Linked DNA regions of Homo sapiens: region 1 is linked to region 2. The links come from fine-mapping of genetic effects on plasma protein levels. Region 2 holds a variant in brackets. A gene starts in the other region. All regions are shown on their reverse strands.

Region 1 (15,047 bases), not on the chromosome of region 2:
GAGGCCCCTGGAGCCAGGCAGCCCTTTACAGACCCTATCCAACTTCCAGACCTGCCGAGCCAGCTCCCAGCTCCTTCCCTCATGCGTGTGCGCTTACTGGGTGCTAGGCACTGTGTTTAGCACCATGCTCAGACGGGGAGCGTCGCAGGCCTTCCTTGCCTAGTGGTGGAAGGAAATGTTAACCATAGGGTTGCAGGGAAACGTAGCGTTGCTGCGGACACGGGCTCAGCAAGGCCTCTGCAAGTGTGCGGTGAGAGCCCCTCTGGGGTTCAGGAAAGTCTTCCCAGGGAAATGATGCTGGCCTGGGTAACTATGGTGAGTAACTACTATGCAGGAGGGCAGGAATGAGGAGCATGCACAGTCGCTCCAGGCAGAAGAATGGCATGAGCAAAAACAGTGCCATGGGAAGGAGCATTGTCCCCTTTGAAAACTGAGAGAAGGGCCGGGTGCAGTGGCTCACGCCTGCAATTGCAGCACTTTGGGAGGGCGGGCAGATCACTTGAGGTCAGGAGTTCGAGACCGGCCTGGGCAACGTGGTGAAACCCGGTCTCTACTAAAAATACAGAAATTAGCCTGGCATGGTGGTGGATGCCTGTAATCCCAGCTACTTGGGAGGCTGAGGCAGGAGAATCGCTTGAGCCTGGGAGACGAAAGTTGCCGTGAGCTGAGATTGCACCATTGCACTCTAGCCTGGGCAAAAAAAAAAAACGGTCTCAAAAAGAAAGAAAAGAAAAGAAAAGAAGAGGGGAGGGGAAGGAGAAGGAGAAAAGAAAAGAAAACTGAGAGAAGACAAAGTGATGGGAGCAGAGAGCTGTGTAAGAAGAGGCTAGAAAGGTGGGTAGCACCAACAGTGCTGGGCCTTAGTTCTTATCCTAAGAAATTTCCATCCTCCTTTCTTTGCTGGAAAGAACAGCCACTAGCCCTGTGAGGCTTTGCAGTTGACAATCCGTCCTTGGCATTAATTTTAACACCCTGTGAGGTCTAATAATTTTCTTAAATGAGGGAGATGAAGCTCACAAAAATTAAGTATTTTGCACACAGTCATTAAGTGGTAAAGCAGGAACGTGAACCTATTTGCACTCTATGCATTGCCACAGTCAGTACCAAAATTAAGCATGAGCAAATGGATAAGCTGTATCAATGGTCACCACATGTTTTATTCAAAAAGAATTCTGTAATTCCATTTAAGTATTAATAATCTGTATAGAAGTCAGTCAAAAAATGTGCACCATGTGACATGAAATGCTAATATCCATTTTCCTCCAATTCTACAGCATGCATTGTCAATGGGAAGAGAGGTAAATTGCTCCCAAGGGGGAAAATATTGGTTCTTGGAGAGCTAAAAAATTTTAGATATTGCAATGACTAGTGGCCTACCAAGGTTCAACCCTACCCAACAAAATCTTATTTCTTAGCATTTGATTTCTCTCTTCAGGAAGAAATTAAATTTAGTTTTCAGTTCATTTTATTTTTTCTCAGAGCAAGGTGAAATGTGGGGGGGTGTGTGTGTGTGTGTGGGTGCACATGCGCGCACACACGCATGCAGTGCTGAGTCCATAATGAAAAAAAACGTTGAGAAACATTGTTTTACAATAAGGAAATCTCCAATCTTTAGCTAGTCAACCAAAATAAAGATGACGTTTCTTAACTTCCCCTACAACTAGGTGTAGCCATGTGATTAAGGCCTGCCTCCATGGGAGGTGATAGAAAATGATGGGTGCAACTTCTAGGATGTCTAAAAAGGAGGGACATGCCCTTTTTCTGCCTTCTCATCATCCTATACCTGGAAATTGGACATGGTGGCAAGCCACCTTTGGCCATGTGCATGAGGGCAGCAATCTAGAGATGGTGACAACACAAGAAAGGAGAAGCCTGGAAGACCTCATGGGAAAGAGCCACTATCCAAGTGCTAATCCACCTACATCTCTCAGGGAGAAATAAGCTTCTATCTTAGCCACTGTTTTCTGTTGTTGTTTTTTTTTTTTTTATTTTTCCATAAGTTATTGGGGTACAGGTGGTATTTGGTTACACGAATAAGTTCTTTAGTGGTGATTTGTGAGATTTCGGTTCACCCATCACCCAAGCAGTATACACTGCACCCTATTTGTAGTCTTTTATCCCTCACCCCGCTCCCACTCTTCTCCACAAGTCCCCAAACTCCATTGTATCATTCTTATGCCTTTGTGTCCTCATAGCTTAGCTCCCACATACCAGTGAGAACAGATGATGATTGGTTTTCCATTCCTGAGTTACTTCACTTAGAATAATAGTCTCCAATCTCATCCAGGTCACTGCTAATGCCGTTAATTCATTCCTTTTTGTGACTGAGTAGTATTCGATTGTGTATATATAAACCACAGTTTCTTTATTCACTCATTGATTGATGGGCATTTGGGTTGGTTCCATGATTTTGCAATTGTGAATTGTGCTGCTATAAACATGCATGTGCAAGTACATTTTTCAAATAATGACTTCTTTTCCTCTGGGTAGATACCCAGTAGTGGGATTGCTGGATAAAATGGTAATTCTGCTTTTTAGTTCTTTAAGGAATCTCCACACTGTTTTCCATAGCGGCTGTGCTAGTTTACATTCCCACCAGCAGTGTAGAAGTGTTCCCTGATCACCAAGTCCACACCAACATCTGCTGTTTTTTGATTTTTTGATTATGGCCATTCTTGCAGGTGTAAGGTGGTATCACACCGTGGTTTTGATTTGCATTTCCCTGATCATTAGTGATGAGCATTTTTTCATATGTTTGTTGGCTATTCGTGTATCTTCTTTTGAGAATTGTATATTGATGTCCTTAGCCCACTTTTTAATGGGATTGTTTGTTTTTTACTTAATGATTTGTTTGAATTCATTCTAGATTCTGGATATTAGTCCTTTGTCAGGTATATAGATTGTGAAGATTTTCTCCCACTCTGTGGGTTGTCTGTTTACTCTGCTGACTGTTCCTTTTGCTGTGCAAAAGCTCTTTAATTAGGTCCCAGCTATTTATCTTCATTTTTATTGCATTTCTTAGCCACTGTTAATTTGGGTCTCTTACATGCAACTGACCCCTTATTCTAACCAATTTATTAGTTTAAAAAATAATACTGTAGCAGGAATGATACAGAATGAGCTTACCACTAGTAGAAAATGACCTGGTCCCAGAGGAAATTAAGGTGCTTTAAGTTGTTAAGTGGGCAATATAAGAAAATATCAATGTAGCCATCTATTATACAGAAGAATATGCCATAAATAGTAAGGGAATTTGAAAAGTATATTATTTATCTGGACTTTAATATTTCCCATCTGGAAACCACATCTCCAACCTTTGTTGTATAACATTAGTATATTCATTATATAACCTATTCTTCACACAGGTGAGCAACTGTGAATGTGCCAAAGGCTATCAGTGTTGCTAGTTTCACATCCCTTACTATAAACCACCCATTTATGTGAAATGGAAATAAAAACATGCAGAAATTCCCTTGGATCTGAGACTAGGGTTTCCCCCAGCACAATCAAGTTTGTGGTCAATTTAGTTAGCTCAGCTAAAGATACTAGCCAATCAGAGTTTAGGAGAGAAATGAATATCCTAAATAAATATGATCCCCAAAATGTGTTCTCTAAAGAATTTCTCAGGCTCAAAATCCAATACAGGAGTGACTTGGAACTCCATTCTATCACTATGAAGAAAAGTGGTGTTCTTTTCCTCTTGGGCATCATCTTGCTGGTTCTGATTGGAGTGCAAGGTAAGGGGTTCTGAGTTAGGTTGTAAAGTAAGAGAAGTGATTCACTGTAAAAGAATCTTGATTAGCCAGATAAAGGTGAATGTTCTGCCTGCATTGAAGAGTAATATTTGGTCAGTCATAAAAGCTTCTCAGTGACATGACCAGTTATCCAAAGTTCATAACTTCGATCTGCCAAGTCAAACACAAGTCTTTGTAGTCTAGGTGTATGAATTCCTAGTAAGTGTTCAATAAATGTTCATTGAACTGGGTAATAATGAGAACTCTATCTCCTAAATTATTTTCTTCTCCCTGATACTGTTTTTTGCTAAGTATATCTGTGGCTAACCAATTAAGGATCCAACCAATAATCAGAGAATTTGTCCCTAATCTATTTACTAACTATCTTTGTTACCTTGGACAAATTACTTAATCTTTCTAGACCTCAGTTTCCTCATCATCTGTAAAATAGAACTTTGTAGTTATACCTTTTCTGACTGCTACACAATGTATGGCATATGGTACAATAAGTACCAAGTAAATATATGAATTTAAGAATTAAGATAATGTATTTTAAGGGGTTTTCAAAAATTTAAAACACTATTGAAAAGCAAGGCAGTGGGGAGGAGAGAGGATGAGGATGAAAGTGGTGATTGGTTACAAAGGAGTGCTTTCTATTCAACACCAACACCAGTTCCATTCCTTAAGGTCAGATAATAAATAATAGATGGTTTAGGAGTTGCTTAAGAAACTGTGATCAGCATAGCATACATGAATTAGTTATCTGTTTGTCTTGTGATAGGCATTTATTAAATATTGTGAAAGTCTCTTTTTCTCCCACGGACTTACGGTGTGGTAGTTAAGAGCAACGCCTTTGGACTCAGAGAGATCTGGGCTAAAACCCTGCCCCTGCTCCCTAAAAGCTGTATGACTTTGTTCTTAATCTTTCTGAACCTTAGTTTCCTTATGTATAAAATAGAGATGATACCTCCTTCAAAGGTTTGTGGTGATTATTTTTAGGCACTCGGTAAATGATAGCAATAATCATGACTCAGTCAAGTGTATCATTTTGATAGATCACCTAAACTGAAACATTGGCCTATACTGATGTGTTCTATCTTTTTCTTTCCCTCAGGAACCCCAGTAGTGAGAAAGGGTCGCTGTTCCTGCATCAGCACCAACCAAGGGACTATCCACCTACAATCCTTGAAAGACCTTAAACAATTTGCCCCAAGCCCTTCCTGCGAGAAAATTGAAATCATGTAAGTAACAACCCAGCTAACATGCATGCACCATATTGGCAAGAACATTAAATTTAGCATGAGTTTTACCCTTGGAGTGCTTGCCCATACAAACACTTAAAAATCAGATGGTTACCCCCTCCATAAATTTGGGCAGCTCCTTTCTTTTCTTCTCCTTAAAAATGCAAGGAATTTCTGGTAGATTAGGCCCCAAGAATGACACATGTTTATTGTACAAAATGTTTAATGCAGGTAACACAATAGAAGAAAATAAAAATCACGCATAATTCTACCCTTGAGTGACAAATACTGTTAACCCCTTAGTATACAGTTTTCTAAATCTTCCTTACTTGCTTCGTGTGCACATAACATAGATATGTTTTTACATACACGTATATAAGCACAAAAATTAAATCATATACTATACACTGTTTTGTAATCTGCTTTTTCATTAACACTATATCATGAACATTTTCTCGTGTCAGTAAATCTCTAATAATGTCATTTTTACTTAATGTCATTTTTAATGGCCAAACTGTATTTCATCATATGGATAAACCATAATTTATATGACCAGGATTATTGTTGGAAATATAGATTATTTCCAAATTTTTACTGCTGAAATAAAACTTACTGTGGCAGTATTGTGTCTGTAATTCTTTCCTTTCTAGAGATTAGGATTGCTAGGTTGAAGGATGTGTGCATATTTTGTCTTTATAAGTCATCCTTGACTACTCTTATTCTCAGACTATACAGAAAAATTAAAGGAACATTTAAATTATTTCCAGACAGTCTACTGTAAGTAATTTTTAAAATTTAACCAGGGCCGGGTGCAGTGGCTCACACCTGTAATCCCAGCACTTTGGGAGGCTGAGGTGGGCAGATCATGAGGTCAAGAGATTGAGACCATCCTGGCCAATGTGGTAAAACCCTGTCTCTACTAAAAATACAAAAATTAGCTGGGCGTGGTGGCGCATGCCTGTAGTCCCAGCTATTCGGGAGGCTGAGGCAGGAGAATCGCTTGAATCCAGGAGTTGGAAGTTGCAGCAAGCTGAGATCGCACCACTGTACTCCAGCCTGGCAACAGAGCGAAATTCTGTCTCAAAAAAAGAAAAAAAAAAAAATTCAACCAGTGACTCATCTTGTCCTAGGAAATAATTTTAAGTAGTTTCATTAGAAAATTCAGCACAATTCATACTGATTTTCATTATTTCTGAGAAGAAGCATTTAAATTATTAATGAGAAAAAACTATCTCATTGCTATTTCTTTGGCAGTGCTACACTGAAGAATGGAGTTCAAACATGTCTAAACCCAGATTCAGCAGATGTGAAGGAACTGATTAAAAAGTGGGAGAAACAGGTTGGTGAAAAGGAAGATCAAAATTTTCTTTCTTTTAGAAATTAACTTTAGAAGACAAAGAATCTGCTTTTTCATTAACACTATAAGAATACATAACTTTTAAGAATACATTTTTCATTCATATTATGGTGCTTCTATTTTGTTCCTAGGACAAAATTAGGTTCCTACATATAGTATCCCCTCTCTGTCTCCCACTGGAAGAATGTGTGTTCCTTGGGGGTACAGAGCTTGTCCTTATTTAATACAATAAATATGTAATGAATTGAATGGTAGACACAGGATACAAAGATAATAAGGTATAGTCCCTTCCTGTTGTAGTGCATATGCTAATAATTATGGTACAATGTGAGAAATATAAAAGTATGCACAAGAATCTTGACGACATAGAGGAGGGAGTACTTAACTTTGCTGGGGGAATGGGGCAGGAGAAAGTGTTAAGGAAGATTTCTCATGTCAGGTGATATTTGATTTGGGTCTTGAAGGATAAATAATTTGCCAGGAAGGTAAGGACAGCATGAGCAGAAGAGTAGAATCATGAGAGAACCTGCTGTGTTCAGGGAGCCTCCATTAATGTGGCTGGAGTTTGTGTGAAGAGAGTGAAGGGACTGAGGCAGAAAAGTAGATCAGGACAAAGCGGGAGGAATCCTGCATGGCATACTAAGGAGTTGGATTTGAAGAGAGCCACAGAATATGTGGGTGGGAGATTGGGTTCTGGAGTCTCACAGACTGGAGGTTCTGCCACATACTAGCTGTCTAGATTTGGGAAAGTCACCCTCTCCAGAACTCAGCCTCCTCCTATGTAAAACGTGGATGATAATAGTGCCACCTTCAGAGGGTTGTAGCTGGGGCAGGTGAGTGGTAAGCAAGGTTGCCAGGAGAATGTAATAAGCCAGAAGAATAGACAAAAGACAGCCAGTTTGAAGGCTGTTGCCTCCTCCTCAAAGTGAGCAAAGTAGAGAGAATCTAAGGGAGCCCCTCTGAGAGTGAAGTGACTTTAATGTGGTTTTGAGACTATGTGGGTATGAGACAATGATCAGGAGAGTCCAAATAAAAGGAAGTAAAAATGGTAAGATTCAGAAACATTGCCCTTTTTCCCCTTCTTCTCACAGGTCAGCCAAAAGAAAAAGCAAAAGAATGGGAAAAAACATCAAAAAAAGAAAGTTCTGAAAGTTCGAAAATCTCAACGTTCTCGTCAAAAGAAGACTACATAAGAGACCACTTCACCAATAAGTATTCTGTGTTAAAAATGTTCTATTTTAATTATACCGCTATCATTCCAAAGGAGGATGGCATATAATACAAAGGCTTATTAATTTGACTAGAAAATTTAAAACATTACTCTGAAATTGTAACTAAAGTTAGAAAGTTGATTTTAAGAATCCAAACGTTAAGAATTGTTAAAGGCTATGATTGTCTTTGTTCTTCTACCACCCACCAGTTGAATTTCATCATGCTTAAGGCCATGATTTTAGCAATACCCATGTCTACACAGATGTTCACCCAACCACATCCCACTCACAACAGCTGCCTGGAAGAGCAGCCCTAGGCTTCCACGTACTGCAGCCTCCAGAGAGTATCTGAGGCACATGTCAGCAAGTCCTAAGCCTGTTAGCATGCTGGTGAGCCAAGCAGTTTGAAATTGAGCTGGACCTCACCAAGCTGCTGTGGCCATCAACCTCTGTATTTGAATCAGCCTACAGGCCTCACACACAATGTGTCTGAGAGATTCATGCTGATTGTTATTGGGTATCACCACTGGAGATCACCAGTGTGTGGCTTTCAGAGCCTCCTTTCTGGCTTTGGAAGCCATGTGATTCCATCTTGCCCGCTCAGGCTGACCACTTTATTTCTTTTTGTTCCCCTTTGCTTCATTCAAGTCAGCTCTTCTCCATCCTACCACAATGCAGTGCCTTTCTTCTCTCCAGTGCACCTGTCATATGCTCTGATTTATCTGAGTCAACTCCTTTCTCATCTTGTCCCCAACACCCCACAGAAGTGCTTTCTTCTCCCAATTCATCCTCACTCAGTCCAGCTTAGTTCAAGTCCTGCCTCTTAAATAAACCTTTTTGGACACACAAATTATCTTAAAACTCCTGTTTCACTTGGTTCAGTACCACATGGGTGAACACTCAATGGTTAACTAATTCTTGGGTGTTTATCCTATCTCTCCAACCAGATTGTCAGCTCCTTGAGGGCAAGAGCCACAGTATATTTCCCTGTTTCTTCCACAGTGCCTAATAATACTGTGGAACTAGGTTTTAATAATTTTTTAATTGATGTTGTTATGGGCAGGATGGCAACCAGACCATTGTCTCAGAGCAGGTGCTGGCTCTTTCCTGGCTACTCCATGTTGGCTAGCCTCTGGTAACCTCTTACTTATTATCTTCAGGACACTCACTACAGGGACCAGGGATGATGCAACATCCTTGTCTTTTTATGACAGGATGTTTGCTCAGCTTCTCCAACAATAAGAAGCACGTGGTAAAACACTTGCGGATATTCTGGACTGTTTTTAAAAAATATACAGTTTACCGAAAATCATATAATCTTACAATGAAAAGGACTTTATAGATCAGCCAGTGACCAACCTTTTCCCAACCATACAAAAATTCCTTTTCCCGAAGGAAAAGGGCTTTCTCAATAAGCCTCAGCTTTCTAAGATCTAACAAGATAGCCACCGAGATCCTTATCGAAACTCATTTTAGGCAAATATGAGTTTTATTGTCCGTTTACTTGTTTCAGAGTTTGTATTGTGATTATCAATTACCACACCATCTCCCATGAAGAAAGGGAACGGTGAAGTACTAAGCGCTAGAGGAAGCAGCCAAGTCGGTTAGTGGAAGCATGATTGGTGCCCAGTTAGCCTCTGCAGGATGTGGAAACCTCCTTCCAGGGGAGGTTCAGTGAATTGTGTAGGAGAGGTTGTCTGTGGCCAGAATTTAAACCTATACTCACTTTCCCAAATTGAATCACTGCTCACACTGCTGATGATTTAGAGTGCTGTCCGGTGGAGATCCCACCCGAACGTCTTATCTAATCATGAAACTCCCTAGTTCCTTCATGTAACTTCCCTGAAAAATCTAAGTGTTTCATAAATTTGAGAGTCTGTGACCCACTTACCTTGCATCTCACAGGTAGACAGTATATAACTAACAACCAAAGACTACATATTGTCACTGACACACACGTTATAATCATTTATCATATATATACATACATGCATACACTCTCAAAGCAAATAATTTTTCACTTCAAAACAGTATTGACTTGTATACCTTGTAATTTGAAATATTTTCTTTGTTAAAATAGAATGGTATCAATAAATAGACCATTAATCAGAAAACAGATCTTGATTTTTTTTCTCTTGAATGTACCCTTCAACTGTTGAATGTTTAATAGTAAATCTTATATGTCCTTATTTACTTTTTAGCTTTCTCTCAAATAAAGTGTAACACTAGTTGAGATAACACATGAAAGCTCTTTAAAGGGTCGATCGGGAACAGGAAAAAAAACCTATGGAAAATATGACAACACTGCCTTACAACAACACTGATTTAAAAGAGTTATGTGGGGCTGGGCGCAGTGGCTCACGCCTATAATCCCAGCACTTTGGGAGGCCGAAGTGGGCGGATCACTTGAGGTCAGGGATTTGAGACCAGCCTGGCCAATATGGTGAGAGCCCATCTCTATTAAAATTACAAAAATTAGCTGGGCATGGTGGCATGCGCCTATAGTCCCAGTTACTTGGGAGGCTGAGGCAGGAGAATCACTTGAACTCGGGAGGTGGAGGTTGCAGTGAGGCAAGATCATGCCACTGCACTCCAGCCTGGGTGACAGAGTGAGACTCTGTCAAAAAAAAAAAAAAAAAAGCATTATGTAGAATTCAATGTATTTCCTAATCCTCAAGAGTAACACTATTCCAATGAGGTGTGTCCCCAGGAAGCCAACACGTCTTCTTTTCTATCCCTAAAATTGTATATGTTTAAATATTGTAAAGCCTCAAGTAGTTATGATGGAGACCTAAACACTGAATGAATTATTTAAGGGTCCAGGAAACTTGGGCTGGAGGCATTACGCAGCGTGGAGTCTCTAAGAAGGTTGAGAGTGGAACGAAGAGCATCAGCCTGTACACTTGATGTACACTTTAGAGGCCAGACAGGTGTAATATTCGGGCAGATAACAGCTGCTAATGGTAGACATGAATTCTCACAAGGGCCTTCACCTGAGAGGCAACAGGACTCTGGAAGGAGCTAAGATCCTGGATTCTGAGATATCCTGGTTAGAATCAGGGGCCCACTACTTATTAACTGTGTGACCCTGGTTAAAGTATAATATTTAACCTCCCAGTGCATCATTTTCCTCATTCCAGATTGTTGTGAGGAGCAGGTTCAGCATAGGTCTTGGTGCAGAGAAAGTCCTCAATGTTTGTCCCAGATCCTCCCTAACCACTTACCTCTGCTGCATCTTCCTTGCAGCAGATGGATCCTACATCTCATAGAGAGAGAAATGTTTCCAGCACTGAAAAAACATGTTGGAGAAATGAGACTAAAAGGCTTCCTGACCAGTTCTCAATATCTGTATTTTATAATCCTAGTCCAGGCCATCATTGTCTCTTTCCTGAGCTACCTCAGTAGCCTGCTGTTTTCCCTGTTGGCTCTTCTTCTCAACATTTCTCTTGCTTCCCTAACTTCCATGACAACTAGAATAATCTTTTTAAAAAATAACTTACAGAATGCTGCCACCTTGCTTAAAATCCTGCAGCTTAGCATTAAGTCAAAACATACCATGAGCTGGCCTAACATAAGCTGGGATCTGCCTGCTTATCTAATCATGCTCCCTCTACCCTCCCCTCCTTTGTTGAGCCTCAGCATCACCTTTTTTCTGTATGTCTCTTGAGCACACTGAATTCATTGCCTTCTGGGGTTTTTGTTCCCTGTGGTTCTGGGTTGTACTATATCAACTTGGTTAGTCTTACAACTACATTTCCCAGAATCTCCTTCCCTGTGTGGTTCCAGGTTATAGTTAGCCAAAGAAGAACTCATGTGAGATTTGGAAATCAAAAGTGAAGGAGTGACCCTTAATCTTGATTAGACATATTGACAGACACACTGGTAGCCAGTGGATCCCAGCTTGTCCTTGCTCTTTTCCTCCATGTTCAGCTTATGCTCAGGACTGCTGGCCTCATGATCAGTGATGGTCCCAGGCCCCCCACCCAGATATTTGGCAGTGGACCCACAGAGGCGGTAGTTACACAGAAGCAACAGCTCCCATAGACCCTAGCAGCCCCAATTTGGCGCTGAACGGGCTTAACTTCTTGGATTTTTCACACAAGCTCTATTTGTCCAACTGTCCCAGTGCTTCTGATGGACCAGTCACTGATTCTTCCTCTGATCCCCTGACTCTCCCTTCTAGATGTTCACTCCCTGAGATCCTTCCTCATCTGTGAGATCTGAATCCTATAGTAAATTTTTATCCTCATAATACTCATAGTGGCTCTGCTTCCCTGAAACACCTGGGCCTACACACACTTCTTTGCATGGCGGTTCTTGCCTCATCACTTAAGTCTCAGTTTAAATGTCACTTCACAGAGTCCCCTTCTCTTATGACCCTTAGTAAAATAACCACTCTTTCCCCAGACTCTCTCTCTGGTAGTGGTAGTGGTTCCAGTGTGTGTACCTTATGGAGTTGATGAAAATATTTAGAACTTACATTTTTGTCTAAAAAACAAGAAAAAACTGAAAATTGACTGTAAATCATTTGTCATGTGCTAATTTCCTGAGGAAAAGGTGACATCGCCACAACTGAGGGGCTGGCATGTGCCCTCACTCAGTCATTCACCTTCTGCAGATTGCAACATGAGTTTCCATTTATGTGCATGTAGTTAAGGGGATTTAAGGATTACAAGACAGAGTGCTCACTAAGCCAACCTTCACAAAATGGGCAAGTGGCTCTAAAAGACTCCTGCTAAGAAATTCCTGAGGAAAAGGTGACATCGCCACAACTGAGGGGCTGGCATGTGCCCTCACTCAGTCATTCACCTTCTGCAGATTGCAACATGAGTTTCCATTTATGTGCATGTAGTTAAGGGGATTTAAGGATTACAAGACAGAGTGCTCACTAAGCCAACCTTCACAAAATGGGCAAGTGGCTCTAAAAGACTCCTGCTAAGAAATTCCTGTGGAAGATCATATTAATAATGCTAATATAAACTAACAAGAGAACAAAACATACATAGATGGGATGGCTGTTCTAATTTTAACTAGAAGGGTACACAATTTTAAAAATCCGGTGGCTAGAGTCTGTTTCATTTTCTTTTATCATGATTAGATATAATGATCAAACCATCACAATCTACAATTACCTTTTAAAATAATGTGTGTACTTATATCTTCCCTCCTACCCTACCACATGTACAAATTTAGGTTTCTCGACCATGGAAACTTTGTCTTCCCCACTACTGCATGCCTAGAGCAGTGCCTGGCACTTAGGAAGCTCCTAATATGTATTTTTTAGTTGATTGACATATACTTCACCCTAAATTTTCATTTTAGGCCTTTTCCAAATCAATTTCAACTACTCTTGTCATGTTCATCTCATGCTCATTTCTGCCCTCGCATTGCTCATTCTTTTATTCGCCCTGTCCTACTTTCCAACTCATCTGACTCCCACCTACACATGATTCAAGTCCCACTTTTCCCATGACTCCATCCCAGAATCCTCCTGGCCACACTGATATCCACCTCCATGCCCTGTCATAAAATGACTTTAACTAGTAAGGATTGTTCTATGATTAAAATCTTCAATTATTTTGCTATACTAGAAAGCAGTCTGTGCCTGAACAAATTTTATACATTAGAGCAATGGATAAAAGACTCAGACGTATTTAATCTGTAAACTATTCTTATGAATTTAAATGCTAGTGGCCAGGTACCATGGCTCACGCCTGTAATCCCAGCCAAGGTGGCTGGATCACTTGGGGTCAGGAGTTTGAGACCAGCCTGGCCAACATAGTGAAACCCTGTCTCTACTCAAAATACAAAAATTAGCTGGGCGTGGTGGCACACGCCAGTAATCTCCACTACTTGAGAGGCTGAGGCACAAGAATCGTTTGAACCCAGGAGGCGGAGTTTGCAGTGAGCTGAGATCGTGCCACTGCTCTCCAGCCTGGGCAACAGAGTGAGACTCTGTCTCAAAATAAATTAAATAAATAAATAAATAAATAAATGCTAGCGATCTCTAGGTCAGTTAACTGGGAGGAAGCTATCTGTAGTTGTTTTATCCTTACGGGGAAACTGGAAAGTTGCCTTCTTATTGGAAAGGAAGATAAAGAGAGACTACAATCACAGATACTTTAGGTACTGTCTCGTTTTTGGCCTATATAGACAGGAGATGAAATTAAATGAGAAAGAAAAACAGGCAACACTTCTTAATAGGGAGTGGAATTAGCTCCCAAGTCATCACAAGCCAAGAAGTCACTTGAGGCATTTTGATACCCACATTGGTTTAAAGTTCTCAGGAGGGAACTTTCAACTTTGGACCCTACATTTTAAGGAGATGAATAAATCACAAAGGAACAGTCTAATCTAAGTCCATTAATAAGATTATGAACTGGGGCAAACTGACAAAAGATTAGAGGGAAAGGTGTCAAGTTATACATAACTAGTTGCTTTCTTTAAAAGTCTGCTATACAGATTAAAAAAAAACTCTTCCTTTAGATATAATATACTGTTTCAAGTCAACTGTTTTAATAAAGAATTTGTTTTGCTCAAAGAAAAAAAGAAGGAAGGACTTGCTGGTATCTCCATCTCCAGAAAACTAAATCTTGGCCTCTGCCTTCTGGTAGAGTATAGGACCAAGTAGGTACAGCCATCTACCACCAGCTTTCTTTAACCATTGGAGTAGACAACCTGCATTTCCTCTGGAATGAAGAACTAAAAATCACAATCTATTAGGTAAGAGGATACATGTCAAAATAAACTATATAACAGAGAGGGAAAAAATGTGTTGCTTAGAAAAAGAAATGCCAGCAATCACTTCTGCAATACTGAAAGCCTCAGAATTTACCTCAGGGCAGATGTCTCTTTTGTATGGAGCCTTTGATTAGGGAGAGATGGGCCTAGGACTTTTGATGGTATGGAAGTTAAAGCAAAACTAAGCTAAATTTCTCTGAATAATGGGGAAACAGGGATGATCTCTGCCAGCTAGGGAGAATGTTGGGGACCTTGGATCAGCAAAAAGAGAGGCAGTGGAGGTGGATGAGAAGCGAGGGCCTGTACCAATGACAAAATCTATCAGCCCTGATAGATTTGTCCAGAGGCAAGGCCAAAAGTTTTCGCTGCCCACAGGAGCAAAGAAATACATGGGCTTGTGGGGAAAACTCATAACAAAGCTGTAAAAGAGAGAGAGGAGGAAGAAAGTACAATAAAAGGCCGGGTGCGGTGGCTCACGCCTGTAATCTCAGCACTTGGGGAGGCCAAGGCGGACGGATCACGAGGTCAGGAGATCGAGACCATCCTGGCCAACATGGTGAAACCCCGTCTCTACTAAAACTAGAAAAATTAGCTGGGCGTGGTGGCGCATGCCTGTAATCCTAGCTATTCAGGAGGCTGAGGCAGGAGAATCGCTTGAACCAGAGAGTCGGAGGTTGCAGTGAGCCGAGATCGTGCCACTGCATTCCAGCGTGGCAACAGAGTGAGACTCCGTCTAAAAAAAGAAAGAAAGAAAGAAGAAAGA
Region 2 (14,602 bases):
TCAATGATGAGACCGAGCTGGAGGCCCTGTGCGCTGAGATCGCCTCCCAGCACCTGGCCACGGAGAGCCCTGACAGCCCCAACAAGCCCTGCTGCAGGTTCACCTACCTGACCATGACGGGCGAGGAGGTGGAGCTGTGCAGCCGGGGCCGGCACATCCTTGTGGCGTGAGTGTGTGCGCGTGTCAGGGGCTGGCAGGGGCTGGCCCGGCCAGCCAGCCAGGGTATGACAGCAGCATCTGTTCCTGGGCAATGACACGAGGACCTAGGTCAGGTGACAGGTGGATTTCACCAGGAGAGGGAGATGAGGCAGGATGGTGGGTGCCAAGAAAGAGGGTCCTCAGCAGAAGGGGTTTACTAAGAAAACAGCAGCTCTGAGGCGGCGGCACCAGAGGCAGGAAAGGACTGGGATGACCAGGGCGGCTGGGCCCCAGGCCTCTCCCAAGAGAGGATCCGGGACCTCCAGCTGAGTGGGTGTGGCCCCCAGACCCAGCCTCTTCGGCGGTGTTCTCCCTCACCTGTGCTCCTCACCCGGGCAGGTGGGAGAACAAGGACATCTACGCGGCAGCCATCCGGAGCCTGCGGCTGCGGGAGCTGCAGAATGTGGAGTGCGTGACGGCCGTGCGGGCCGGCCTGGGCTCCATCATCCCCCTGCAGCTGCTGACCATGCTCAGCCCACTGGAGATGGAGCTGCGCACCTGCGGCCTCCCCTACATCAACCTCGAGTTCCTCAAGGTAGACATCCCAGGGCCAGGCTGGGCGGGGAGGTGGTGAGCCCCAGGCGTGCCTCCCTGTCACCCTCAACTCCAGCAGCAGGCATCGGCAGTGGCCTGTCTCAGCTCTGTCCTTGCCACAGACCTGTATCATTGTCATCATTGTCATCTCCCTGTGCTCACAGCCCACACGTTGCACCCTGCCCCAGGATTGGGCCTGGCCTGCAGACCCCAGGGCTGGGGAGGCACTGGGTAGGTGGGGCTCCAGGGCTCCTGACACCTGGACCTCTCCTCCCCAGGCCCACACCATGTACCAAGTGGGGCTGATGGAGACGGACCAGCACATCGAGTTCTTCTGGGGGGCCCTGGAGATGTTCACCCAGGAGGAGCTGTGCAAGTTCATCAAGTTTGCCTGCAACCAGGAGCGCATCCCGTTCACCTGCCCCTGCAAAGATGGGGGTCCCGACACTGCCCATGTGCCCCCGTACCCCATGAAGATCGCCCCCCCAGATGGCACAGCAGGTACCGCCCTCCCCTGGCCATGTCCCAAGTAGGGACACACTAGCCTTTCTCTGTTTGGAACTGGGGCTGCCAGGCCCCATGTGAAGGGAGAACAATGAACAGGAGCCCCACGTGCCAAAACTCAGACATCATTGAGGATTAGGGCCCGGCAGGAACCAGCCATACAGGCCTGCTGTTAGATACTTTCTCATATCTTAAAAGAAGCTGAAAATCCAGAATGCTTCAAATCTTCTAACTTTTAAATGCAGAAAAATGGTTAAAAAAAAAAAAAAAGAAACAATTTGCTGGGCAGACAAACCCATCAGCAGTTTGGCACATGCGCTGTCCAGCAGCTCTCTCCCCTTTTCCCTCCAAGAACATCTCGCAGGTTCCCAGGCCCTCATCCCCCTCCTGCTGGGCCCCAGGATTGGCTTGGGGCTACCCAAGGAGGCAAACCTGGAAGCAGAGGCCAGCCCAGCTTCCCTGGGAGCCTCACAGATGTGGGCCCAACCCTCTGATGCTGGCTCGGTTTCTTGTAGGTTCCCCAGACTCTCGCTACATCCGCGTGGAGACCTGCATGTTCATGATCAAGCTTCCCCAGTACTCCTCTCTGGAAATCATGCTGGAGAAACTTCGTTGTGCCATTCACTACCGTGAAGACCCCCTCAGTGGCTGATGGGAGGGAGCCCCAGAATTAGGCTGTCACTGAGGCACCCACTCTGCTGGCTTGGGAAGCCACCACTGCGGCCCGTCCCTCCAGGGCCCTGCGTGAGGAGTTGGCAACATTTTGCTTTTCCAAACTTTCGTCCACATTCCAGGGCCTCCTGGAAGACTTAACCTTTTGTCTTTGTACGTTTCGTGATGGGTTGGTTCTTTTGCTGCCTGTTTGTGGTCTATTTGTAGGATAGTTTAGTTCCCAGACAGTTTGTGTCTAATTTGATCTTCTTGGACATTGTCCCTCATGGCCACCAGATTCTAATGCCATAAGGCCCCAGCTGGTTCCCCATCACAGAACCACCCAGCAGGAAGCCGGGGGTACAATGACCTCGGCCACACAGAGCGCTCGTGCTTTCAGCAGAGCGCCTCCACAGACAAGCCTGTGGCCAGCCCTGCCCTCCAGCCTCGAGCTGGAGTTGCTCCAGAGGCAGCCCCAGCAGGCCTCCCTCCACATAGAGGTGGCTGGGCCAATTGCCCAAACACGTGAGACACACAGGGAGCTTTATGTGTTCATCTTCCTGCTTTAGAACTTGCTCCCGGTCTTGGTTTTTCTGAGGAAAAGCCCACAGTGGTTCCCCTGCCCCTCCCATACCTCCCTATCTGCCGTCTGTCTCTTTGGGCCCTGGTCTGACAGTTTTCATCTGAGGCCTCCTCGGGAGCAGGAGACTTAAGGGTTCATCCCGACCTTAGTTCACAGAGCCTAGCTGGGTGCATCCCAGCCGCAGGGGGTGAGAAGACACCCAGAGATGGGGGACAATGCTCAGGTGGGGGCCTCCTCCGAGACTCTGGTTGAGAGGAAAGCACATGATTCAAGCCTACCCCACAAAAAAGGAGCACAAAATGCTCAGAAATGGCCCTTCCTCCCTGCAGTGACGTAGGACAAGGGAAAGGGCCACACCCATTTTCAAAAGAGTGGACTGAGGTGCTCTGCTCAATTTGGGGTCTGCTTTAGTGACCCAGACACTCAAGTCCAGATGGAGACTCCAGGGGGGTCCTTCTGCCCCTCTGGCCAGCCCCACCCAGCACTCCCCATCACCCCATGTAAGTGTGTATGCCAGGGCTGAGCTGCCTCCAGGCTCACCCACTGCATCTTTGCCCCAAATAGGTCTTTGTCCAGTGGTACTTTGTTCATGAGCAGCACAGGCCATCTTGTTGGACACTGTCACTTTGGGCCTTGCCAGGTCTCACAGAATCACATCGCTGTATTTATTGTATAATATTGTGAATATTGGAAGTTTTGAGTGAGTGCTGTCTAGAAGGTTTTGGAGTGTGGATGCTGGTCCAAGAAAGAAGATGTGCCCTGGCCTGCTGGAAAGATTGTGAATTCTAGAGATAGAGCCGTTAGCATCCATCTCCTCCCTGTAACTCTTAGGAAATGCATCAAGGACCATTATAGAAAGGATCCCCTGACCTAAGGATGAAATCGACCTAGGGTTAATCATGACAGCTGCATCAGTTGTATTGGATGCAAGTCAACTCTGGAGGTGAGTGCCCGCAAGCAGTTCCCCTGCTTTGAAAGAAGATGGTCAGCCCGCTGCCTCCCCAGCGGCCACAGCTCCTTTGAGTGTGGGGGGTCACAGCCAGGATGTATTCCTGACAATAAGGATCCTTTTATTTTCATTTCTGCATAATGAAAGAGCCTTTCGATTTATTAGAAGTGGTTTTTCCTCCCTACATCTTTAAATTCTTGGTTCTCTTTAGTCCTCATCCCTTGAATGGACTTGTCAGCTACCTCCCCAGGAGGAGTTCAGAAGCTTCTGTTGGCCATCACTTGAGTAGATGACAAGCTGTAAGGTATCTGCTGCTAACGTGGCTGCTTCTCCGAGAGCACATTGAGGTCCAGACAGATCCAAACCTTGGCCCTAAAAAATGTGTGCTGTAAAGTTACTTGATGTATATTTATTATAATTATTTATGGTTGCATTTAACAAACTTTTCATTCAATCTGATGCTATTTACACCATGCTGTGTAAAGGAAGCTCACTAAAGGAAAAAAGTCACACCAATAAATAACCTTCATCTAATTTTGATTTACCTTAAGAGTTGTGTGATCATCTACTCTTGCTGAGCAAGTTCAAAGGCTGGCATGCTTGGATGGCTCTGATATTTAAGTGCTGCCAAGTGGCTAGGAATTAAAGTGTTTCTAATTATTATGGTCTCTTGGCATTTGACGTGATTCTTACTCCATGAGGTTTTTAAACTACCCTTCCCCAAACCTGACTCTTCAGTCTGTGCATTCCATGTAGAAATTACGAAGGCAGGGGAATCCAAAATCAAAGTTAAACCTAACCCTACATCCCCTGCCCACTTTTTGTCCTGGCAGCTAGTCTATGCGCTTGGGCCTGGTGTGGGCATTTTCCTCAAGCGGATTGTTATCGTGGCAGAGTCTGGGCCCCTCTTAGACACAGCTCCTCCTTCAGGAGCAGGCAGTGGATGTAGACCTACCTTGTGCAGAAGGCACATACAGGAAAGAGGTGAGGACTTGCTGAGTCTTGCTGTCCATGATCAACACTCAGGTCCTTGCACAGCTGCCTCCCTGGCCAGGGAGCCCAGGTTGGCTATACTCCGGATAATCTCAGTTCTCTGTGACCTGCTTGTCCCCTCCTACTGTTCCATGGTAGTCCTCACCCAGAGCCGCTTTATTCTCATGCTCTCAACTCCACCTTTCTTGTACTTCATAAACACTAACTTTGGAAGGGTGGCAAGATGGCCGAATAGGAACAGCTCTGGTCTGCAGCTCCCAGCGAGACCAACACAGAAGGCAGGTGATTTCTGCATTTCTAACTGAGGTATCTGGCTCATCTCAATGGGACTGGTTAGACAGTGGGTGTAGCCTACAGAGGGTGATCTGAAGCAGGGTGGGGCATGGCCTCACCCAGGAAGCACAAGGGGTCAGCAAACTCCCTCCCCTAGCCAAGGGAAGCCATGAGGGACTGTGCCGGGAAGAACGGTGCACTCCGGCCCAGATACTATGCTTTTCCCACAGTCTTCACAACCTGCAGACCAAGAGATTTCCTCCAGTGCCTACGCCACCAGGGCTCTGAGTTTCAAGCACAAAACTGGGTGGCCGTATGGGCAGACACCGACCTAGCTGCAGGAGTTTTTTCATACCCCAGTGGCACCTGGAATGCCAGCAAGACAGAACAGTTCACTCCCCAGGAAAGTGGGCTGAAGCCAGGGAGCCAAGTGGTCTAGTTCAGCAGATCCCACCCCCATGGAGCCCAGCAAGCTAAGATCCACTGGCTTGAAATTCTCACTGCCAGCACAGCAGTCTGAAGTCAACCTGGGATGTTCGAGCTTGGTGTGGGGAGAGGCGCCTGCCATTACTGAGGCTTCAGTAGGTGGGTTTTCCCCTCACAGTGTAAACAAAGCTGCCAGGAAGTTCGAACTGGGTGGAGCCCACCACAGCTCGGCAAAGTCGCTGTAGCCAGACTGCCTATTTAGACTCCTCTCTGGGCAGGGCATCTCTGAAAGAAAGGCACCAGCCCTGTCAAGGGCTGATAGATAAAATTCCTATCTCCCTGGGACAGAGCACCTGGGGGAAGGGGCAGCTGTGGGCACAGCTTCAGCAGACTTAAACTCCCTGCCTGCCAGCTCTGAAGAGAGCAGCAGATCTCCCAGCACAGCACTTGAGCTCTGCTAACGGACAGACTGCCTCCTCAAGTGGGTCCCTGAGCCCCACGCCTCCTGACTGGGAAACACCTCCCAGCAGGGACCGACAGACACCTTATACAGGATAACTCTGGCTGGCATCGCGTGGGTGCCCCTCTGGGACAAAACTTCCAGAGGAAGGAACAGGCAGCAATCTTTGCTATTCTGCAGCCTCTGCTGGTAATACTGGTCTGGAGCGGACCTCCAGCAAACCCCAGCAGACCTGCAGCAGAGGGGCCTGTTAGAAGAAAAACTTAACAAACAGAAAGGAATAGCATCAACATCAACAAAAACAACATCCACACAGAAACCCCATCCAAAGGTCACCAACATCAAGGACCAAAGGTAGATAAATCACCGAAGATAAGGAAAAACCAGCGCCAAAAGGCTGAAAATTCCAAAAACCAAAACACTTCTCCTCCAAAGGATCACAGCTCCTCCCCAGCAAGAGAACAAAACTGGATGGAGAATGAGTTTGATGAATTGACAGAAGTAGGCTTCAGAAGGTGGGTAATAACAAACCCCTCCAAGCTAAAGGAGCATGTTCTAACCCAGGGCAAAGACGCTAAGAACCTTGAAAGAAGGTTACAGGAATTGCTAACTAGAATAACCAGTTTAGAGAAGAACATAAATGACCTGATGGAGATGAAAAACACAGCATGAGAACTTCGTGAACCATACACAACTATCAACAGCTGAATCGATCAAGCGGAAGAAAGGATATCAGAGATTGAAGATCAACTTAATGAAATAAAGTGAGAAGACAAGATTAGAGAAAAAAGAATGAAAAGGAATGAACAAAGCCTCCAAGAAATATGGGACTATGTGAAAAGACCAAACCTACATTTGATTGGTGTACCTGAAAGTGACAGGGAGAATGGAACCAAGTTGGAAAACACTCTTCAGGATATTATCCAGGAGAACTTCCCCAACCTAGCAAGACAGGCCAACATTCAAATTCAGGAAATACAGAGACCACCACAAAGATACTCCTCAAGAAGAGGAACGCCAAGACACATAATCATCACATTCACCAAGGTTGAAATGAAGGAAAAAATGTTAAGGGCAGCCAGACAGAAAGGGCGGGTTACCCACAAAGGGAAGCCCATCAGACTAACAGCAGATCTCTCTGCAGAAACCCTACAAGCCAGAAGACAGTGGAGGCCAATATTCAACATTCTTAAAGAAAAGAATTTTCAACCCAGAATTCCATATCCAGCCAAACTAAGCTTCATAAGCAAAGGAGAAATAAAATCCTTTACACACAAGCAAATGCTGAGAGATGTTGTCACCACCAGGCCTGCCTTACAAGATCTCCTAAAGGAGGCACTAAATATGGAAAGGAAAAACCAGGACCAACCACTGCAAAAACATACCAAATTGTAAAGACCATCGACACTAGGAAAAAACTGCATCAACTAACAGGCAAAACAACCAGCTAGCATCATAATGACAGGATCAAATTCACACATAACAATATTAACCTTAAAAGTAAATGGGCTAAATGCCCAAATTAAAAGACACAGACTGGCAAATTGGATAGAGTCAAGACCTATCAGTGTGCTGTATTCAGGAGACCCATCTCACATGCAAAGACACACCTCACGTGCAAAGACACACATAGGCTCAAAATAAAGAGATAGAAGAATGTTTATGAAGCAAATGGAATGCAAAAAAAAGCAGGGGTTGCAATCCTAGTCTCTGATACAACAGACTTTAAACCAGCAAAGATCAAAAAAGACAAGGGCATTACATAATAGTAAAGGGATCAATGCAACAAGAAGAGCTCACTATCCTAAATATATATGCACCCAATACAGGAGCACCCAGACTCATAAAGTAAGTTCTTAGAGGCCTACAAAGAGGCTTAGACTCCCACACAATAATAGTGGGAGACTTTAACATCCCACTGTCCATGTTAGATCAATGAGACAGAAAATTAGCAAGGATATTCAGGACTTGAACTCAGCTCTGGACCATGTGGACCTAATAGACATCTACAGAACTCTCCACCCCAAATCAACAGAATATACATTCTTCTCAGCACCACATCACATTTATTCTAAAATTGACCACATAATTGGAAGTAAAACACTCCTCTGCAAATGCAAAAGAATGGAAATTATAACAAGTAGTCTCTCAGACCACAGTGCAATCAAATTAGAACTCAGGTTTAAGAAACTCACTCAAAAACTGCACAACTACATGGAAACTGAACAACCTGCTCTTGAATGACTACTGGGTAAATAATGAAATTAAGGCAGAAATACATAAGTTCTTTGAAACCAATGAGAACAAAGACACAACGTACTAGAATCTCTGGGACACAGCTAAAGCAGTGTTGAGAGGGAAATTTATAACACTACATGCCCACAGGAGAAAGCAGGAAAGATCTAAAATCAACACCCTAACATCACGAAAAGAACTAGAGAAGCAAAAGCAAACAAATTCAAAAGCTAGCAGAAGACAAGAAAGAACTAAGATCAGGCAAAACTGAAGGAGATAGAGACAGGAAAACCCCTTCAAAAAATCAATGAATCCAGGACCTCATTTTGTGAAAAGATTAACAAAATACACCACTAGCCAGACTAATAGAGAAGAGAGAAAAATCAAATAGACACAATAAAAAATGATAAAGGGGATATTACCACTGATCCCACAGAAATACAAACTACCATCAGAGAATACTATAAACATCTCTATGCAAATAAACTAGAAAATCTAGAAGAAATTGATAAATTCCTGGACACATAACACCCTTCCAAGACTAAACCAGGAAGAAGTCGAATCCTTGAATAGACCAATAACAAGTTCTGAAATTGAGGCAGTAATTAATAGCCTACCAACCGAAAAAAACCCAAGACCAGATGGATTCAGAGTCAAATTCTACTAAAGGTAGAAAGAGGAGCTGGTACCATTCCTTCTGAAACTATTCCAAATAATAGAAAAAGAGGGACTCCTCCCTAACTCATTTTATGAGGCCAGCATCATTCTAATACCAAAACCTGACAGAGACACAACAAAAAAAGAACATTTCAGGCCAATACCCCTGATGAACATCGATGTGAAAATCCTCAATAAAATACTGGTAAACTGGCCGGGCACGGTGGCTCACGCCTGTAATCCCAGCACTTTGGGAGGCCAAGGTGGGTGGATCACAAGGTCAGGAGATCGAGACCATACTGGCTAACACAGTGAAACCCTGGCTCTATTAAAAATACAAAAAAATTAGCCGGGCGTGCGCCTGTAGTCCCAACTACTCGGGAGGCTGAGGCAGGAGAATGGCATGAACCCGGGAGGCAGAGCTTGCAGTGAGCTGAGATCATGCCACTGCACTCCAGCCTGGGCAACAGAGCGAGACTCTGTCTCAAAAAAAAAAAAAAAAAAAAAAATACTGGCAAACTGAATCCAGCAGCACATCAAAAAGCTTATCCACCAGTCGGCTTCATCCCAGGGATGCAAAGCTGGTTCAACATACTCAAATCAATAAATGTAATCCATCATATAAATAGACCAATGACAAAAAACACATGATTATCTCAATAGATGCAGAAAAGGCCTTTGATAAAATTCAGCACCCCTTCATGCTAAAAACTCTCAATAGATTAGGTATTGATGGAACTCATCTCAAAATAATAAGAGTTATTTATGACAAACCCACAGCCAATATCATACTGAATGGGCAAAAACTGGAAGCATTCCCTTTGAAAACCGGCACAAGACAAGGATGCCCTCTCTCACCACTCCTATTCAACATAGTGTTGGAAGTTCTGGTCAGGGCAGTCAGGCAAGATAAATAAAGGGTATTCAAGTAGGAAGAGAGGAAATCATATTGTCTCTGTTTGCAGATGACATAACTGTATATTTAGAAAACCCCATTGTTGGCGGGTCACAGTGGCTCACGCCTGTAATCCCAGCACTGTGGGAGGCCGAGGTGGGCAGATCACGAGGTCAGCAGTTTGAGACCAGCCGACCAACATGGTGAATCCCGGTCTCTACTAAAAATACAAAAATTAGCTGGGCATGGTGACGCACACCTGTAATCCCAGCTACGCAGGAGGCTGAGGCAGAAGAATCACTTGAACCTGGGAGGTGGAGGTTGCAGTGAGCCAAGATCGCACCGCTGCACTCCCGCCCGGGCAACAGAGCAAGACTTTGTCTCAAAAAAACAGTGTAAAACCAACCAACCTCCTACTATTTTACTCAATGTCTAATCCAACCAAAGGCAGAGTGGGGAGAGTTTGACTTTCTGGCAGGTCTATCCCCACACTCCAACAGACAGTTAAGGGCAACATGACTGTTCCCTGGCCCAGCTGGGGAGAGGACTTAGAGCTGCCCTGGATCCTTCCTCCCAACTTTTTGAAGTTCCAGGGAGATTTCAATGACAGCAGAAGCCATGCAAGTCCGAGTCCCTCCAGTTTCTTTCACGCAACAACACATGAAAGTCTCACTGAGCTAAGGTGATTTTGTTTTACTGAGATATAACTGACATACACTAAAAGATCTAACCCTACTATGTATCGTTTGTGTGTGTGCGCGAGTGCATGCAGACGAAGCTTTTTTCTCTCAGGATAATTCTTTTCAGAGACCTGCCTCTGCAAAGAACTGGCCGCATGGTTCCCGTGTCTAGTGTTCCATCTATGAAATAGGGCAGTTCCTCCCACCTTTCCCACCCCAACAGGTTGTTGGAAGAACAAAGGAACTCAAAATGACCTACGGTGCTCAGTGGTCCTATGCAGACGGAGGCACTGAGGGGTAACAGCTAATCCTGCTAGGGCTCAACTCCTCTCAGGATGAAGGCTTTTGAAGAAT[C/T]TGCTTTTCTCTATTCAGTCAGAGGCACCCCTTCTAGCCCCAGTCATCACCGGAGCTGCAGCAAGCCTGTCAGTTTTCTCAGAAGTCCAATTTAAAACACTACACGTTCAATGTCTGTGTACTCCAAGAAGGGACTCATGGTGGAGCTGCGAGGGTTACTGGAGTGCCGGAGAAAGCCCAGCCCTGCTCACCTCCTCCAACCCCAGGGCTGACTCCAGCCTACCCTGCCCTCCCTGCAGTCTCTAAAGCACACAGGAGAAGGAACCACAAGACTGAGCTGAACTCCAAGTACAAACTTTATTTCTATTACAAGGAAGTTAATAATTATTATAACAGTAAAATAAAAACAAGGGGAAGGGGCTCTGACACTTGGTTTTCAGAGCAAGTGTGGGGCTGGGGCAGAGCCCAACATACCTGCTGTGGGGACAGGGAGCCCTCAGCCCTCCCCATTAGAAAGCAGTGAGGACAAAAGATCCATGCTCCCCCGGGAACAGAAGGCAGTGATGCCAAATGCCAAGGAAGCAGCTTAAAACACAGCCCCCGGTCCACTCACCTCCAGCTCAACACATCAAAAGCCTCGTTACTGACAGACATTGCAACTGGCCTGAGCACCTTACCAGAGCGCCTCATACACACCTGGGGCCCAATCGAGTGTGGACAGACGCAGTACACGGAGAGGTTGCCCAAAAGCCCCCAAATTTAGGCCCCAACAGGGCAGAGAATCACCTTACTGGTGGCTACCAGGTTTCCAAAATCTTCCCCTCCTTCCACTGGGACCACACAGCACCAAGGGGCAGTGGCGACAATAAGTCAAAAGGGAGCCCTGGCAGCCGAGGCTGCAGCTTGTATTTCACTGCTGCCGAAAGGTAGCAGCTAAGGCTGAAGCGTTCCTCAACCGCCACCCTGCTCCCTTCCCTCAAACCCAAACCCCCACAGCACAACCTCAAAAGACACAAAATGGCCATAACCTAGAAAAATCTAAAATCTGGAAAAACTCTCCCACCCAAAGAGCCAAAGAGGTGGGCCTGCACAGCGGCAAGTGCTGCTGTGCACAGAAGACAGGAACCGATGTAAAGTCTCTGGAGACACCATTACTCCTCCTCTTCCTCTTCTGCATCCCCAGCTCCCTGTTGCTTGGAAGGCTTTGCCTGGTGAACAACACAACACAAACGAAGCTTTACATAAAAAGTGAAAAAGCATTACTCCTCCCCTGGATCCCCGAAAATGTCCCGCTTCCTTAGAAACCTCCTTCTCAAAAGCCAAAGGAACAATCTTTGAACCACAACCAGCCTGGTCCCAACAACTTCTACAACTTCAGGAGCCACACAAGCCCCACCATGTCTGAGTCCCCCACTGAGCATCATGGGCTGGAGCCCACCTTACCTTTGCAGTTCTGCTGCGGTAGTTGGCAGCTGCAGGGGTGACCCGGGAATTCCTGCCACCTTCACTCCTACCACTGAAAGAAAACAATTAGAAACTAGCTCCTGAAGTGTCCCTGAGCAAAGGTCAACAAACTCAGAGGGAACAGGAAGCAGTCCTATGCTAGCAGACAAACCCCAAAAAACCCATAGGCCACAAAATAATTTTTTTGGAGTCAGGTGACAATACAGGGAAAATCCATACTCCTCCCCTTACCATGCAAGTACCTCAGTCTTACCCCAGGCCTGGCAAGGGTAACCAGGCCTTTGCCCATGTTCGCTTCAGCTACTCCCAAGCCCCATTCCTGGGCTACTGATTCTTACCTAGCTCCGTATCTCCCTGAAGGCCCAGGGGAGAAAGAGGGCACAATGTTTTCTGGGTAGAGATTTTGAGGAGGGCGAATCACTGAAACGTGCCCAGGGGCTATGGCCCCATTCTGGCTGTCTCGATTCCGCCCCTGGATGTCCTGGCTGTCTGAGTTGCTGAGCTTCGGCACACAAGGAGAGCTGGGCTGGCACCCAGGTCTGGGGCCTGATGTTGATCTCGATAGCTGGTTATAGGTAGCTGTCATATTGTTAATGGGTCGGCTGGGAGGCAGACAGGAGGTGGGCCCATTAGCTGTTTCCTGCTTAGTATCATCCAGGTAACCAGAAGACAGGTCTCCTGAGAAGAGAAAATGGTAACAGCTTTAGGAAAAAGCCTGCTCTGGCTATAGTGCCAGGTTTAGGGCAGGAACAAAAAGATTCCAGATAGAAGACAACTGCTCAGCCAGGCGTGGTGGCTCATGCCTGTAAACCCAGCACTTTGGGAGGCCGAGGTGCGGGGATCACCTGAGGTCAAGAGTTAGAGACCAGCCTGGCCAACATGGTGAAATTCCATCTCTACTAAAAAAAAAATACAAAATTAGCCAGGTGAGGTGGCACACAGCTATAGTCTCAGCTACTCAGGAGGCTGAGACCAGGAGAATCACTTAAACCCAGGAGGTGAAGACTGCAGTGAGCCAAGATCATGCCACTGCACTCCAGCCTGGACAAGACAGAGCAAGACTGTGTCTCAAAAAAAAAAAAGACAACTGCTCACCCCAAAAGGCTGCTGGAACCCACATCTCCAGGGCAGAGATGGGGATATTTTATCAATTCTGCACATATTATCTGAGTCCTCAAAGACAGCCTCCTAACTATTCAACAATAGTGTGCAAGCAAACCTTGAAAAATAATTTTTTTTTTGAGATGGAGTCTTGCTCTGTCGCCCAGACTGGAGTGCAATGGCATGATTTTGGCTCACTGCAGCCTCTGCCTCCTGGATTCAAGTGATTCTCCTGCCTCAGCCTCCCAAGTAGCTGGGACTACTGGCGCCCGCCACCACGCCCGGCTAATTTTTGTATTTTTAGTAGAGACGGGGTTTCATGATGTCAGCCAGGCTGGTCTTGAACTCCCAACCTTGTGATCCGCCCACCTCAGCCTCCCAAAGTGCTGGGATTACAGGTGTGAGTCACCATGCCCAGCCAAAAAATAATTTCTAATTGGCTTTGTAGTGGTGAGGTTTCAAAAACAGTTTACTTGCCTAAACATGATGGTCTTAAGTAATAATAATAAGTTTGAGGCTGGGTGTGATGGCTCACACCTGTAATCCCAACACTTTGGGAGGCCGAGCTGGGAGGAACACTTGAGCCCAGGAGTTCAAGATCAGCCTGGACAATGTGGCGAAACCCCAACTCTACAAAAAAAAATTAAAAATTAGCTGGGTGTGTTGGTGGGCACCTAGCCTACCTATAGTCCCAGCTACTCAGGAGGCTAAGAGTGGGAGAATCACTTGAGCTCAAGAGGTTGAGACTGCAGTGATCACGCCACTGCACTCCAGCCTGGATGACAAAGAGACCCTGTCTAAAAAAAATAAATTAAATAAATAAGTTTGAGGTCGGTCACAGTGGCCTACGCATGTAACCCCAATGCTTTGGGAGTCCAAGGCAGGAGGACTACTTGAGGCCAAGAGTTCGAAATCACCCTGGGCAACATAGCAAGACCCTATCTCTACAAAAACAAAAAAATTAGTTGGGTGTAGTAGAGTGTGCCTGTAGTTCCAGCTACTTGGGAGGCTGAGGAGAGAGGATCACTTGAGCCCAGGAGTTTGAGGCTGTGGTAAGCTATGATTGTGCCACTGTACTCCAGCCTGGGTGACAGAGCAAGACTCTGTCTCTACAAAAAAATTAAATAATAATAATAGGTTTGAGTACCCTAAGTGTATTTCAACTTGAAATGGGGGCCCAGGGTAGCTACCATAAGGTCTGCAAATTATCTACAAATAATCCACTAAGTGCACAGATAGGAAACCAGAAACTTATTACAAGCACTTACTACTACATGTATCTCATGGATGTCCGCAAAGCCATTACCCTAAAAATCACACACTTGAGAGAGCTCAGTCTAATGTGGGACCACAACTACCTGCAGAGGAGTCCCCTATGAGACCCTAGTGTGTTTGGAAATTTGAGATGCAGGTAATCCCCACATTAGAGCAGTGGATGGGAAGTGGTAAACAGGCCGGAGCCAGCAGTAGACCTGCGGCCTTGGCTGAGTCCTGGCTAATAAATACCCTGGTGTCTGACACGCCTCCTGGGCAGCTCTGGTGAGGTCTCTTGAGGCTGGGAATCCAGTCTAGGAATCCCCTCTGTCACATGGTTGGTTGCAGTGGCTGGGCGTTGGTCACACTGGTCCTAAACAAGAAAAACCAGAATTAGTACCTCTGAATTGAGTCATTCCCAGAAAAGAGCATGCGATGGGAGGAACAGCAG

Alleles and levels. Alleles are on the strand shown, and positions count from the first base shown. The strength of an association depends on the size of the effect and on how common the allele is.
For the plasma level of the protein whose gene starts at base 3,614 in region 1, T is the high allele of the variant in region 2 and C is the other (moderate association).

The links. A credible set is the group of variants that fine-mapping cannot tell apart. PIP is the chance, under the fine-mapping model, that this variant and not a neighbour inherited with it causes the effect. The UK Biobank Pharma Proteomics Project read protein levels with antibody pairs (Olink). The fine-mapping took linkage between variants from a reference panel, not from the people measured, so its PIPs are less certain.
Region 1: it holds the start of CXCL9, and the variant in region 2 is the best candidate, but not a certain one, in a credible set for the plasma level of the CXCL9 protein (UK Biobank, PIP 0.54).

What each region holds. Positions count from the first base shown.
Region 1 is chr4:75,996,076-76,011,122 of GRCh38, reverse strand. It overlaps CXCL9 (C-X-C motif chemokine ligand 9), which reads left to right and starts at 3,614. Exons shown (of 4, transcript NM_002416.3): 1 at 3,614-3,737; 2 at 4,849-4,975; 3 at 6,230-6,314; 4 at 7,424-9,848. The coding sequence starts at 3,674. The coding sequence ends at 7,525. SDAD1-AS1 (SDAD1 antisense RNA 1) reads right to left here. Exons shown (of 3, transcript NR_125906.1): 2 at 14,379-15,017; 3 at 5,181-6,050. RefSeq lists an enhancer at 1-3.
Region 2 is chr12:112,149,673-112,164,274 of GRCh38, reverse strand. It overlaps TRAFD1 (TRAF-type zinc finger domain containing 1), which reads right to left. Exons shown (of 12, transcript NM_006700.3): 9 at 14,404-14,524; 10 at 12,135-12,474; 11 at 11,776-11,848; 12 at 10,671-11,540. The coding sequence ends at 11,484. It overlaps HECTD4 (HECT domain E3 ubiquitin protein ligase 4), which reads left to right. Exons shown (of 76, transcript NM_001388303.1): 73 at 1-166; 74 at 538-733; 75 at 1,011-1,233; 76 at 1,752-4,080. The coding sequence ends at 1,888. It overlaps MIR6861 (microRNA 6861), which reads left to right and starts at 954; the gene lies at 954-1,017. The variant C/T (reference allele first, on the strand shown) is at 10,393.